Linked DNA regions of Homo sapiens. The protein of the gene in region 1 interacts with the protein of each later gene in a biochemical or structural test. Each region holds a gene or a part of one and is shown on either strand. Other genes may lie near its edges.

Region 1 (7,205 bases):
GCTTCAAGACATATTCTCACTCTCCTGGGGACTCTGGCAAGGAAAGAAGGTAGAAGATGCCAATCTAAAGAAATGCAAGTGCTGGGGGAAATCCCAGGAGGCTGGGTGTGGTGGTGAAGGAGGGTGGTGTGAAGCAAAATGGGCTGGGCCTCTGCTTTGAGCCCCCTTTTAGTCTAAACTGGGATCTGAGCTTTAGGACATGGCGAGGAGAGAAGACAGGAAGAGGAGAAGCTTCAGGTCCCAGAGGGGTACCACAGTGGGTGTGGTTTTTGAAACCACAGTGGGTTTGTGAAAAGAGTAAAGATGTTCACATTAAGGGTCCCAAACACTGCAGGCACATTCCCACCATCAGGATTGGCTATAGAATTTGGGGGGCCTGTTGGTCACAAATGATTAAGATCATTACAAATGATCAAGGCAACAGAGCATTAAACTAAGTGCGGGTCCTGGTCACCACAGAACCTTTGCACTTGCCCGTCTTGGCCTAGAATCCCCTCCCCCAGATCTCTGTATGTTCACTCCTCACCTCCTTTAGGTTCTCCATGAAATGTGACCTTCCCAGAAAGACCCTGTTGGACAGCACTATTTAAAATTACAGCCCCTCCCCTGGCAGATACACTCTATCCTGTCTGCTTATTTCTTCTCCAGAACATTTATTTATTACCTGACAATTATTTGTCCATTGTCTAACTCCCTCTTCCCCAGAATGTAAGTTACACAAGGGCACAGGCTTTTTTCTGCCTTGTTCAATGCTATATTCTCAGTGCCTGGAACAGTGGCTGGTACCAAGAAGACACTTAATAAATATTTGTGGGATATGAATGAAACCCAAGCTGCTTCAAGCAGCAGACCGTTCCAACAAAGACCGCATGTAAGTCACAAGTTGTTCTAGTATACACAGGCATCATTTCAAAAGGTTCGTAAGTGGAGGCCTGCTAATTCACGAATAACATGAAAAAATGAACAGCACTGAGGATAAGAACTTTTTAGTTGGGGGAAAGGGAGAAATTTGGGCTGGAGAAATCACGGAAGAATTAACACAGGAGACAGAACTCAAGCTGAGCTTTAAAAGGCAGGCAAAGAACAGGAAAGAGGAAAGGAAGTTATTCCAGTTAAGTCAATTCATGAGTACACATTTGGTTTGGTTTGCTGTCTCACTGCATATTAGCCAGAAGAAAAGTGTTCACATTAGGGAGCTTACTTATTTGTGTTTAACTTAAAAACAGAAGAAGGTTAAGCCATTAAATCTATCTTGTTGGCAACACAGATGCAGGATCTGACAGGTTAAATATTGACATGGTGAGTGATAAATATTGGCCAGCAGTATTAAAACTTTCAGCAGACCTAAAACTCCATATCTTAACCTGGAAGGATGCTTTGAATGTTCAAGGGTTCTAACAATCATAGAGCCTTTATAAAGTCGCAGTCAGAAGCAGCAATTTTGCCCACATTATTTCAACTCAACAAACATAGATAGGGCCCCTACTGTACTAGTAAGGCAGGTGGAGTTAGAACAGTAAGGCAACAGATCCTGCCCTCCAGGGATTCACAAGAGGCGGAAGCTAAGGGCTTATCGGTGATAAGCTTCAGTAAAGAGGAAGTAAAATAGCATAGCAAACTCTGAGTACTAACGATAATGGCACCAGCTTACATTTATTGGGCCCTTACTGTACTCCAGGCTCAGTGCTAAGTTCCATGCCTATTTCATTGCCTCTTCACGAGATAGGTACTAACATCATCATCATTTGACAGCTAAGGCAGGGGAAATTAACTTGCCCAAGGCAAACTGGTAACAGCAGAGCCAGAATCTGAACTCAGGTCTGCTTGACTGCAGAGCCCAGCCCCATAGCCAAGACTGTCCTGACTCCATTAATGTCATTCTTTTAGTTAAAAGAAACAAGACTTTAGGCTCTCTGAGGACAAGGAGCCATTCTGTTTACTGCTGATTCCCCAGCACTGAGCTGATCAATGAATATATGTTGGATGAACAGAAAACACAGTCGTCCCCCCTTATCCGCGGTTTTGCTTTCCATAGCATCAGTTACTTACAGTACAGTATTATGAGAGCCCACATTCATATAACATTATAGTATACTGTTGTAATTGTTCTATTTTGTTGTTGCTGTTAATCTCTTACTGTGCCTTGTTTATAAACTTTATCATTGCTCTGTGTATATAGGAAAAAAAAACATGGCATATACAGGGTTCAGTACTATCTGCATTTTCAAGCACCCACCGGGGGTCTTGAAATGTATCTCCAGTGGATAAGGTGGGACTACTGTATTCTCAGTTAGTGCTGCGTCACACACCCACCTAAAATGGATATCAGTTATTGCTCTTTTTTCCTGCCCAACATCCACTTCCTCTATTTAGGAAACCATCCCACTCCCACTCTTAGTCAACACAATTTAGGCAGAGCTGACCTCACCTTCATCTTCAGGAATGGGCAATGGATTCGAGTCTGAACAATTTGAATCAGTGATTGGCTGAAAGGTGGACACATGACCCAGTTTGCAGCAATGGGAATTTAGGTTCATGACTTGCAGCTCTCTTTCCCTTGAGTTGCTAAGCAGATAGAAGACTAGAGTTGCTGGTAGCCATTTTTCCCCAAGAGGAAAGCCTGTCTGTGAATAAAGTCAACAAAAGGAAAGCAGGATTAAGAGAAGGCAAATCCTACTTACCTTAGGTAAGCACCCAGAACAAACATTACCACCTGGAATTTTCAGTTACAGGAATCAATAGATTCCAGTTTGGGTTTTTAAGCCAGTTTGGGTTGGGTGCTTGTTGCCTGCAGCCCAGAGTCCTGATACACCACCTAAATAAAAATGGAGCCCAAGCAAGTTGGTATCACAGCCACTCCACTGAAGAAAGCAGCACACTTGCAATTATACTCAGGTATATCCACTATCTCCAAGAAGCCTGGGTTTATGAACAGAGGAGAAGAGAAGACAACAGAGAAAGTGCCTACTGCCTCTGAAATTCTGACCAGGGATGTGTTCTTTCACTAGTTTACTTATACTAAGAACTCTATCAGGTGCCAACTGAGGTATTCCCAACTCATCACCTAAAAAGAGATGGCTGCTAAGTGCTATTACTAAAAGCTTCATAAAACATGAGGCTTGGGAGGAGTCCTGCGTTGTTTTTTTTTTGTTTTTTTTTTTTTGAGGTGGAGTCTTGCTCTGTCACCCAGGCTGGAGTGCAGTGGCGCAATCTCGGCTCACTGCAACCTCTGCTTCCCGGGTTCAAGCAATTCTTCTGCCTCAGCCTCCCCAGTAGCTGGGACTACAGGCACGTGCCACCACACCCGGCTAATTATTGTATTTTTTAGTAGAGACAGGGTTTCACCGTCTTAGCCAGGATGGTCTTGATCTCCTGACCTCGTGATCCATCCACCTCGGCCTCCCAAAGTGCTGGGATTACAGGCATAAGCCACCATGCCCAGTGAGTCCTGCGTTTTCATGTCAGCTTTGCTTGCCCATCAGAGGTTCTGGCCTATACCAGCCAGATGACACTCCAAGGCAGCACTGCTCACCTACCCATCCAAAGGCAACTTCACTTTTGATTGCTAACTTATTAGTTGTTCTCTCTCTAGTGATGGATACTGAAGACTCTGAAGTGGAGGAGACTGCACCAGAAATACAACAGGGTGCACTAATGAAAGTGCCAAAGGTTGGAGAAGAAACGGGGGCAGGGAGGAAGTGTAAGAAGGTAGTACCAGATTTTATTTCCCATTCATGTCAAGTGGATCAGCTTCTGTTAAAGATTCTAGGGAGTCTCAAATGGAACTAACTCTTCCTTTCAGGAGCCACCCATGGATCAAGCAAGGATTCTTGGGAAGGCACAAGGCAAAGATGATAAAATGGTTACCCAAGGCAGATCTAGCCCACTGACAGGTTTTGTTTAACCTGCAATGTTAGCACCTAAAATCTTATTAATTTTTATTAGTTACCAACAATTAAAAATTGGAAGAGCTTTTGAGGTAGACTGACATAGTGATGGCCCCAAATTTGTTCATGTCTCTCTGTATCCAAGCACTTGGGTAAATCCACACTGACTCTGGACTTGGCCACATGAGAATAACAAACATGACCTATGCAGACTTCAAAAGCACCATTGCATCTGGCCACTGGGGCTCGCCCTCTTGCTGCTCTTGTAACTCTGAGAATGCCCACTTGGGGCTAAGCTAAGCTGCTGTATGATGACTCATAACCCAGATACACACCTCTTTCTCTCTCTCTCTCTCACACACACACACACACACACACGCACAATTAGCCAACCCCTAGAAGCAGAGCAGCCTAGGTGACCACAGCTAACCTCAGACACACGAGTGAGCTCACCCATGCCCAGCCCAAGCTGCCACCCTGCAAAATGGTGAGCTAAATCGTGGTTGTTTTAAGCCAACGTTTTGGATGGTGTTTTTAAGTGAGACAGAATCTATTTTGCCCAGGCTGGTCTCAAACTCCTGGGCTAAGGTGATCCTCCTGCCTCAACTCCCCCAGCAGCTGGGAGTACAGGCATGTGCCACCATGCCCAGCTTGGATGGTTTTCTCATGCAGAAAAAACTGAAGGAGTCCACATAAAAATACATATTCCCAATTAAAAAAAAAAATCTAAAGACCTTACAACACTGGGACCACATTCCTACAGGGCAACAACCAGCTAATGGGGGCAGTGGTTATTACCCTGACCCCAGCCATGGCATGTATTTCCCAATGTGTCTTTATCATCTTGCCCATGCTGGGGTCAAGTTCTGCTGTCATGTCATCTCAGCTGGGTGTTGATTTATGGTAAAGAAGAAAGTGAAATACTACATTCCACATACACAAGTTACTATCAAAAGTGAGAAAACCAGTACAACTACTTTGGAAAACTGTCAGTATCTACCAAGGCTAATCTATGCATACCTTATGACTCACCAATTCCACTCCCAAATGAATACTCAGGAAAAATGTGGACACATTTTTCAGAAGATGTACAAAACATTTATGGTGGCACTATATCTGAGAGTCCCAAACTGGCTATCAACAAACTAGCAACAATTCCCATCAACAGTAGATAAGATGTGGCATATTCATAGGGATCAATCTCACAGATAATGCCATACACGAGAACTCAAAGACACATGAGTATGTGCTGTTTGACTCCACTTAATATACAGTTCAAAAACAAACAAACTAAATGTGGTGTTAGAAGTCAGGTGAGGCCAGGCATGCAGGCTCACACCTGTAGTTCCAGCACTTCGGGAGGCCGAGGCGGGCAGATCACAAGGCCAGGAGTTCAAAACCAGCCTGGCCAACATAGTGAAACCCCATCTCTACCAAAGATACAAAAATGAGCAGGCCGTGGTGGTGCATGCCTGTAGTCACAGCTACTAAGGAGGCTGAGGCACAAGAATCACTTGAACCCGGGAAGTCAGGGTTGCAGTGAGCCAAGATCATGCCACCGCACTCCAGCCTAGGTTACAGGGTAAGACTCTATCTCCCAAAAAAAAAAAAAAAAAAAAAAAAAAAAGTAGTCAGGTGAGTGGTTACCCTTGGGTGGAAGAGAAGTCAGGTGAGTGGTTACCCCTGGGTGGAAGAGAAGTCAGGTGAGTGGTTACCCTTGGGTGGAAGGGAACACAGGGCAGGGGAGGTGGTTCTGACATGCTGGTGATGCTGCCCTGTGACCTGGCTGCTGTTTACATGGATGTGTACACTTGAAAATTCATCAAGCTGTGTATTTAGGCCCTTGTAAAGGTCAATACATAGTTTGAGCTTAAAAACTTTTAAAAGTGGGAAAACAAGACCAAGATGGCCATGTTTAAAGACAATTCCTACATGTTTAATTGTGACAAAAAGAACAGCTGCCACTATGAAACGAATTATAAAGCTATGACCAGAACACATAAAAACACCTGATGAGCTGGGAGAAAAGACCTAATGTGCAACACCCAGCCTACCTCACTCACGTGCATTACCTGCCTTAGCCCTGTGGGCTCTGGGGCTTGCAACCACTGACACAGGAATCCAAGCCTTTTCCATAAACCTTGTCATCATTTATCAGCCTGGAGAGAAGGAGTAGGTTTATTATCTAAAAATCAGTTACTTTCCTAATGCTCATCTACAGATTAGTTGAAAATAGCCACTGGAGAGAGTTGTTGGGAGAAATGAAGACGATAATGTCTCTAAACCCTTAAGACAGTACCAAGGAGACAGTTTACGCACACAATGAATTATAACTTTATTTATAGCAGTGTTACTAATGATTGCAAAGTCTTGTTTTCATTTTTTATTTTTTGAGATGGAATTTTGCTCTTGTTGCCCAGACTGGAGTGCAATGGCACGATCTCGGCTCACCACAACCTCCGCCTCCTGGGTTCAAGAGATTCTCCTGCCTCAGCCTCCTGAGTAGCTGGGATTACAGGCACCCACCACCATGCCTGGCTAATTTTGTATTTTTAGTAGAGACAGAGTTTCTCCTTGTTGGTTAGGCTGGTCTCGAACTCCTGACCTCAGGTGATCTGCCCACCTCAGCCTCCCAAAGTGCTGGGATTACAGGTATGAGCCACCAGGCCCAGCCTTTTTTTTTTTTTTTTTTTTTGAGACAGGGTTTCGCTCTGTCACCTAGGCCGGAGTGCAGTGGTGTGATCCCGGCTCACTGCATCCTCGACCTCCTGGCCTCAATCAATCCTCCCACATCAGCCTCCCAGGTAGTGAGGACTACAGGAACATGCCACCACGCTGGCCAATTTTTGTAGAGATGGGGTTTCTCTACGTTGCCCAGGTTGGTTTTGAGCTCCTGAGCTCAAGAGATCCATCCACCCACCTCAGCCTCCCAAAGTGCTAGGATTACAGGCATGAGCCACCTTGCCCAGCCACAAAGTTTGCTTTTTGCCTGCTTTTGACAGGGTCTTGCTGTGTCACCCAGGCTGGAGTGCAGTGGTGCAATCATGGCTCACTGCAGCCTCAGCCTCCTGGGTTCAAGCGATCCTCCCACCTCAGCCTCCCAAGTAGCTAGAACTAAAGGGGTGCACCACCACACCTAGCTAAATTTTTTAAATTTTTTGTAGAACCAGGGTTTCACTATGTTGCCCAGGCTGGTCTTGAACTCCTGGGCTCAAGCAATCCTCCTGGCTTGGCCTCCAAAGTGGTGGGATTACAGGTGTGTACCACCACACCTGGCCTACAAAGTCCTCTTTAAAATTAGAGGTGCCCCAAAAGTTG
Region 2 (5,751 bases), on another chromosome or scaffold:
AGGGATTGGTTCACAATCGGAAGTCCCATGATGCCTTCAGAGATCTGTGTGAACCTCTGCAATGATAACAAAATTTTGTTTTATACATGTGACACTGTTCTCAGGAGTGGTCATAGCTTTATCAAATTCTCAAGGGTCCACGGCCCAAAAAAGACAAGCTGATTTTTACAACTCAAGGTTAATTTATGAATGCTCACCTTCAAACGTTTCTTGATTCTGATTCTGCTATGAAAGAGTATAAAAAATAAAAAATGTTTCCCGAGTCTAAATTCAACCCAAAGCACGTATCAACACCCAATGGGCTTCATCCATCAAAATAAATTTGCCCACTGAAATGAGAAAAGCAAATGGGTTCAAGTCTGCCAAAGGTCATCGATGATCCTCATCATCTCTACTTTTCCACCTTCCCCTTGCTGCTCACCCCCAACTAGACTGTAAGTCCTGAGGCCAGAGACCTTTGCAACCTCTGCATGAAATTGCAAAAGGCAAAGCAGATGGAACTCGAAAGAAATTCACCACACCTATTTACGAAACCAGGTTTATTAAAATTTCTCTACAAGTCAGAAACGGCCATCTCACTGTTCACATATATACACGTATGTACAGGAAGAACCTAGTGTTTCTAGCTTTCCCGGCAGAAGGCCCTGCCAGCCCAGAGTCCTTAGTCGGATAATGTATCACAGATACAACAGTCGAGCAACCACGAGAGCGTTAGTGCGACAGAGGCCTCTGTCCTCCCTCTTCTCAAAGTCCCATGATTCTGTCAAGGTAATATTGCCAATAATCATTCACATTTCACGTGGTTTTAGACACGCAGGTTATTCAGACAGACACAGACAACAAAACAAGCCTCAAAGCCAGAACAAAACAAAACAAAACAAAATCGAACATAGGTATAAAAGGTAAAATATATGTACAAAGTACACAGTACGTGAGGTATACACGGCATTCTCACAATGCATGTTAGTAGTTTGCCTAGGCATAGCCCTTAAAGATGACTGCCTGTTTTTGTGCCATTTCTCAAAATACAGTATATTTTGTTTACCCGTTTAACCACCTGATTTCAGCACTGTCCAAGACAGTTACTGATATTTCATCTGAATTTGTTTTTTAATGAAAGTTGCAATTTCTCCATTAAGCTCCATCTTTTGTAGGGGAGTGAGTTTCCATCTCTGGACATATCTAACAGAGGCTGGATTCCCACCTACAAAAGAAGCTGAAGAGGGGATTTCTGCCTTGGGAGGTGGCAGAAAGAGGAAAGAGATTGGACCGGATGATTTTTAAAGTTCCTTCCAACTTTGAAGATTTGGGGTTTGCTGTTTCACTCCAGAAGCCGATTATACAGACGTATTCATAAACCACACATTTGAAATATTAACAACCCACCATGCAAAACTGCAGATGTACACACAATGCCAAAGGCGGACCATATCTGGGAGGGGTTAAAGTATAATTCTGGAAGTTAGTCTGAGAATCACAAGACTATCCAAAATTCACTCTCTTCAAAGCACAAAGATGTTTAATGTCTGCTCTTGGGAGAGGTGGGTGGGAGCCTCCTTATCTTTCTTCTCTTAGACAGAATGCTCCACCCTGAGATGGTCTTGGGGAAAAAGTAAAGGGTAGGTACTAACATATTTGGAAGGAACTTAAAAAGCTAATAGTTTCCAAGCACTCAAATTATTTTTTAAAATCTGGAGTCTCTCTGAGCTCAGAGTTCTGAAATCGTTGGGAGATGGAATCTTTTGTGATACTGTTCCACGTTCGGCTGGTAAGTGCTTTTATAGCTAAAGGGGGAAGTGTCAAGGTCAGGGAGAAGGCATTAGTGCAGATGAGGTCTTGGCAGGAAACAGAGAAGAGTCTCGGTTCATGGTTCCATCAGGCTCCTGAGCAACTTAAAACAGTCTGCTCCAAAAACGGAGCAGAGTCATTGGTAAATGTGAGTGTGAAGAAAGGGTGAGTGTTAAGCCAAAAAAGGAACTTTCCCATCAGAGAAGCTGCCGTAGCAGTCTAGCCACCAAAGATGAGTTCAAAGATGGCAGATTTATTGGCCCAATTTGTCACCCTGTGAAAAATACGGTTATTACTCAAAATATGTCATTGTGCGATTTGCTTTTTCTCCCATTCGAATGCTCAAGTTTATTACACACTTGACCACCGGGTGTAAGATGTCCATACTCTGCCCTCCACAAAAGATGCGGAACTCCCAAATCCAGCAGAGATAGTTGGTGAGGGTTCCTTAAGGGAAACAAATTTGCAGGGCAGCCAATCACAGCATATGCTGCTCAAATCAATAAAGTCACTCATCCCAACAGAGAAGAGGAGGCGCCATGCCGAGTTCAGCAGCTTTCATCCTGATGCAGTCATTATCTGGTTGGTACCACGCCAAAGGGCCTGTCCATCTTTAGAAATGGAAATGCCAGGTGTTAAGAATTATGAGGTTTCTGAGGTTTTGGGGATTAGCAGAAGAAGGAACTAATGTCACTGTCCTCCTGGTACTCTGGAACAATCTGGTCTGAAGTTCCTATTTCTGAGTCGATGTACCCGGGTTCCAAGACGGACTCAAACCAGGGGTGCAGTAGGATCTCGGGGGCAGTGAGTCTCTCGGAGGGCTCCCGTCTCAAGAGGCTGCGAATGAGGCACCTGGCTTTGGGGGAAATGTGCTCAGGAATGCAGAACTGTCCACGCCGAATTTTGGAGAAAAGGGCACTGGGGTCTGAGTCATGGAAGGGGTATCGTCCAACCAGAAGGGTGTAGAGCATCACCCCCAGGCTCCAAACGTCCGCAGCCTTTCCGGAGTAGGTCCCAGTGGTGTTGAGGATCTCAGGGCTCACGTAGGCTGGGCAGCCATGTTTGTCTGACAAAGCATCATCTTCCCCCTTCATTATGTGTGTGTCTTCTAGACTTTCTAGTCTAAGCTGGGTTCTGCAAGAGAGAGGAACCAAGCCATTATTTCCACACCAGCTGCTATGAAAAACAAAGCCTTCCCAATAACAGCGCCCACAGGCACTAACAGCAAAGGCTCCAGGAATGCTATTTACCCCTTCGTCCAGTAAGCAGTGCCCTGCAACTACCGAGGGCTCCTGATTTCACAAACTAACACGAACTGCAATAAATGTTTGCAAAGTATCGGCAGAGCGCCTGGGGTGGAGGGTATGAGGCAAAGCCCCAAATAGTATTCATAATGCTGGAGCTTACAAGAGATATCCTAATAGGAGTTACGCAATTTACTAAGTTCCCATTGCAGAACTGGGAGCCTGTCTCAGAATGCTGCATTCTCTACAAAAGCTAGCAGGGAAGAGCAGCATATCCTACTTCTTCAGAGAGGGCCTGAGCATCCTACGAACCCATCTTCCCTCTTATGACTGCCAGGGCTACCTGGACCCACACTGCATTACAGAACACGGAGCCCAAAGTCACTGCTATTACACACAGGTCATCAGCGCTGGTGCCCACACTGATACATGCACACAGAGCAAACTTTGTCCTCCTGGGCCCAGGCTGCAACAATTAGGATGGGAAAGTTGCAAGGAATGTTAATTACATTTATTGGGGTGTTTAACTGCAAAGAACACTTTGCCTGGACAGAGAGGTTATGCGAGCAAACAAAAGTGGCTGATGGATTTCAGGGACGCAGGGACCCTGAAATTCTTACACAGGGACACACACTCCCCCTGGGATGGCACATCAACATGTGAGCATATGTATTCTACAGGGGGGGTCTCTGTTCAGGTAACAACGAAAGTCTAAAACACCTTCAGTCAAAGGCTCTCTTATGAAGCTGCAGGTGCCTCCTTATTCAGAACCAGCCACCCAAGTCTCCTGGATCCCCCAAAGCTCAAAGCCATGTGGTGGGGAAGCTCTGATATCCAGTGACACCCTGTCTCTGCCTGCTTCTCTGAAATACCCGTTTCAGTAAGTCACTTGTGAAGTTAAATGCAAACATTTGGTACTGGCTGATGGGTCAATTCCTTTTCCTCTCAAAGGTCTGTTTTTTTTTTTTTCTGCCTTCCTGTTCCCTGGAGTGTAGTATACATGTGCTAACTTCAGTATGTCCTCAGCGTGACCTCCCTGTCGTTATGTAAAATACCCATTGGTTCTGTAAACGGAAAATATGACTCAACCCACACTGTCTGCCCCTGATTGGCTGCTACAGCACTAAAACCCTGCACCTGTGCTGGTTACACGAATAGCGTCAGCCTGACATTGCTTAACCCCCGGGTTGCCAAACCCCATGCCCATGATATTCGCCTGTGCAATGCAGATTTCAAAAGCTAGTAAGGAGGTGTGTAAGGCATGTTTCAGAAAATGCATCACCATATCAAAGGAGCATGTTCCAGGAATTAGAAACTTCTTCATTGCCAACAGTTTGCTTTTCTTTGCTAATCAGTGTGTTCCAATAATTATTGCGAGGTCAGATACAAAGTCATGCTTTATGACAGCTCAACCCTGTACTGTTTCATATGCTCTGGAGTCAAAGGTAAAAATGCACAGGTGAGATAAGCCCACTTCTTACAACAAACTAACTCACTCTCACCTCTACAATGTTACAGCCTTACTGCTTGTAATCTTTCCACAAGGGATGTGGCTGGCTCTTAAAATCAAGTGTGGTCTATCTCATGCGGCTTCCTGAATTCTCTAGCTGAAACCTCAGCTTTGAATCTTAATGCCTCATTACTCTCTTATCAAGCTCATCTTGTTCTTTATGAGGTAAGCTATGATCTATATTTAGCAATCCATCCTAACCAACTTCCATTTACTATTCAATGTGGCTATTTTCTGAAGACGGATCCAAACAAGCTGTCTAAAAAGTCACCAGAGAATGTGATGTTACAGAGAACCTGGACTGGGATGGGAGAGGAATGCTGTGTGAAACAAGAGGGTGGAATTCTGCATATATGACAGTCTCACTAGCTCTGTGAAACCTTCCAGGTACAAAACAGCACTTGGCATAAGCAAAGATTTGAACACTTCCTTCAGAAGGCAATATCGTAAAGGGCAGTTTAATATTTGTACCCCAGACAACTGACCTTTCTGACAACAATGGGGAATGAACCTGATCCTGGGGTAGGAGAGGAAGAGCACCCTGTCAACACTTGCCATCCCATAGAAGCGCCACGGTGTCCCCAGGCCCCGTCCAAGAGAATGCAGAATAAACCAACCTTGGCTGTGACTCCTCAGGAACAGAAGCTCTAAATACTAAATCTGGGACATATGAGCCCTTGACTTTGTTTTGCACCAACACACAGCACCTAACTACATGACCTGCACCTCCGCTTTGGTTCCAAAAGGCCACAGGAGAAGCTGTGGCGGCCGCTCACCTCTCCTCCGTGGAGAAGACGAACTTCCTAAGCTTCAGGTCCCCCAGCACGATGGCTGACTGGTGGCAGTGGGCGACGGCGGAGACAATCTGCTTGAAGAGCCGGGCGGCTTCCTCTTCCCGCAGCCTCTTCCGGCTTCGCACATAGGAGTGCATGTCCCCAAAGTCCTTCTCAAAGAAGACATAGGCCTTGGTTTCCCCAAGGATCACTTCCACAATGCCAGTAATGTTGCTGTGCGATGGCAGCTGGATGTAAGGCCTGATTTTGTCCTGGTAGTGTTTAATGGGAAACACCTGTAGAGAGAAGGGGGGCCCGTTTAGGGGGCTAGAAAAGCAAAGGCAGCCTCCCAAACCCCTGAGGGAGCTGAACAGAAGTTCTCAACCTGTGGGCTTAGGATGTGAGTAAGTTCCATTCACCTACTCCTTTCCTCTGC

The links.
Region 2: the proteins of FBXW8 (region 1) and TRIB1 form a complex in vitro, tested with the Homo sapiens proteins (one study listed by BioGRID).

Annotation. Positions count from the first base shown.
Region 1 is NC_000012.12:116,913,950-116,921,154, reverse strand, and holds part of FBXW8 (F-box/WD repeat-containing protein 8), read right to left. Parts: intron 2,625-7,205; coding exon of another isoform or gene 2,424-2,624; intron 1-2,423. UniProt on the Homo sapiens protein: Substrate-recognition component of the Cul7-RING(FBXW8) ubiquitin ligase complex, which mediates the ubiquitination and subsequent proteasomal degradation of target proteins.
Region 2 is NC_000008.11:125,433,177-125,438,927, reverse strand, and holds the end of TRIB1 (tribbles homolog 1), read right to left. Parts: intron 5,612-5,751; coding exon 5,319-5,611; intron 2,923-5,318; coding exon 2,457-2,922; 3' UTR 525-2,456; downstream 1-524. UniProt on the Homo sapiens protein: Adapter protein involved in protein degradation by interacting with COP1 ubiquitin ligase. The COP1-binding motif is masked by autoinhibitory interactions with the protein kinase domain.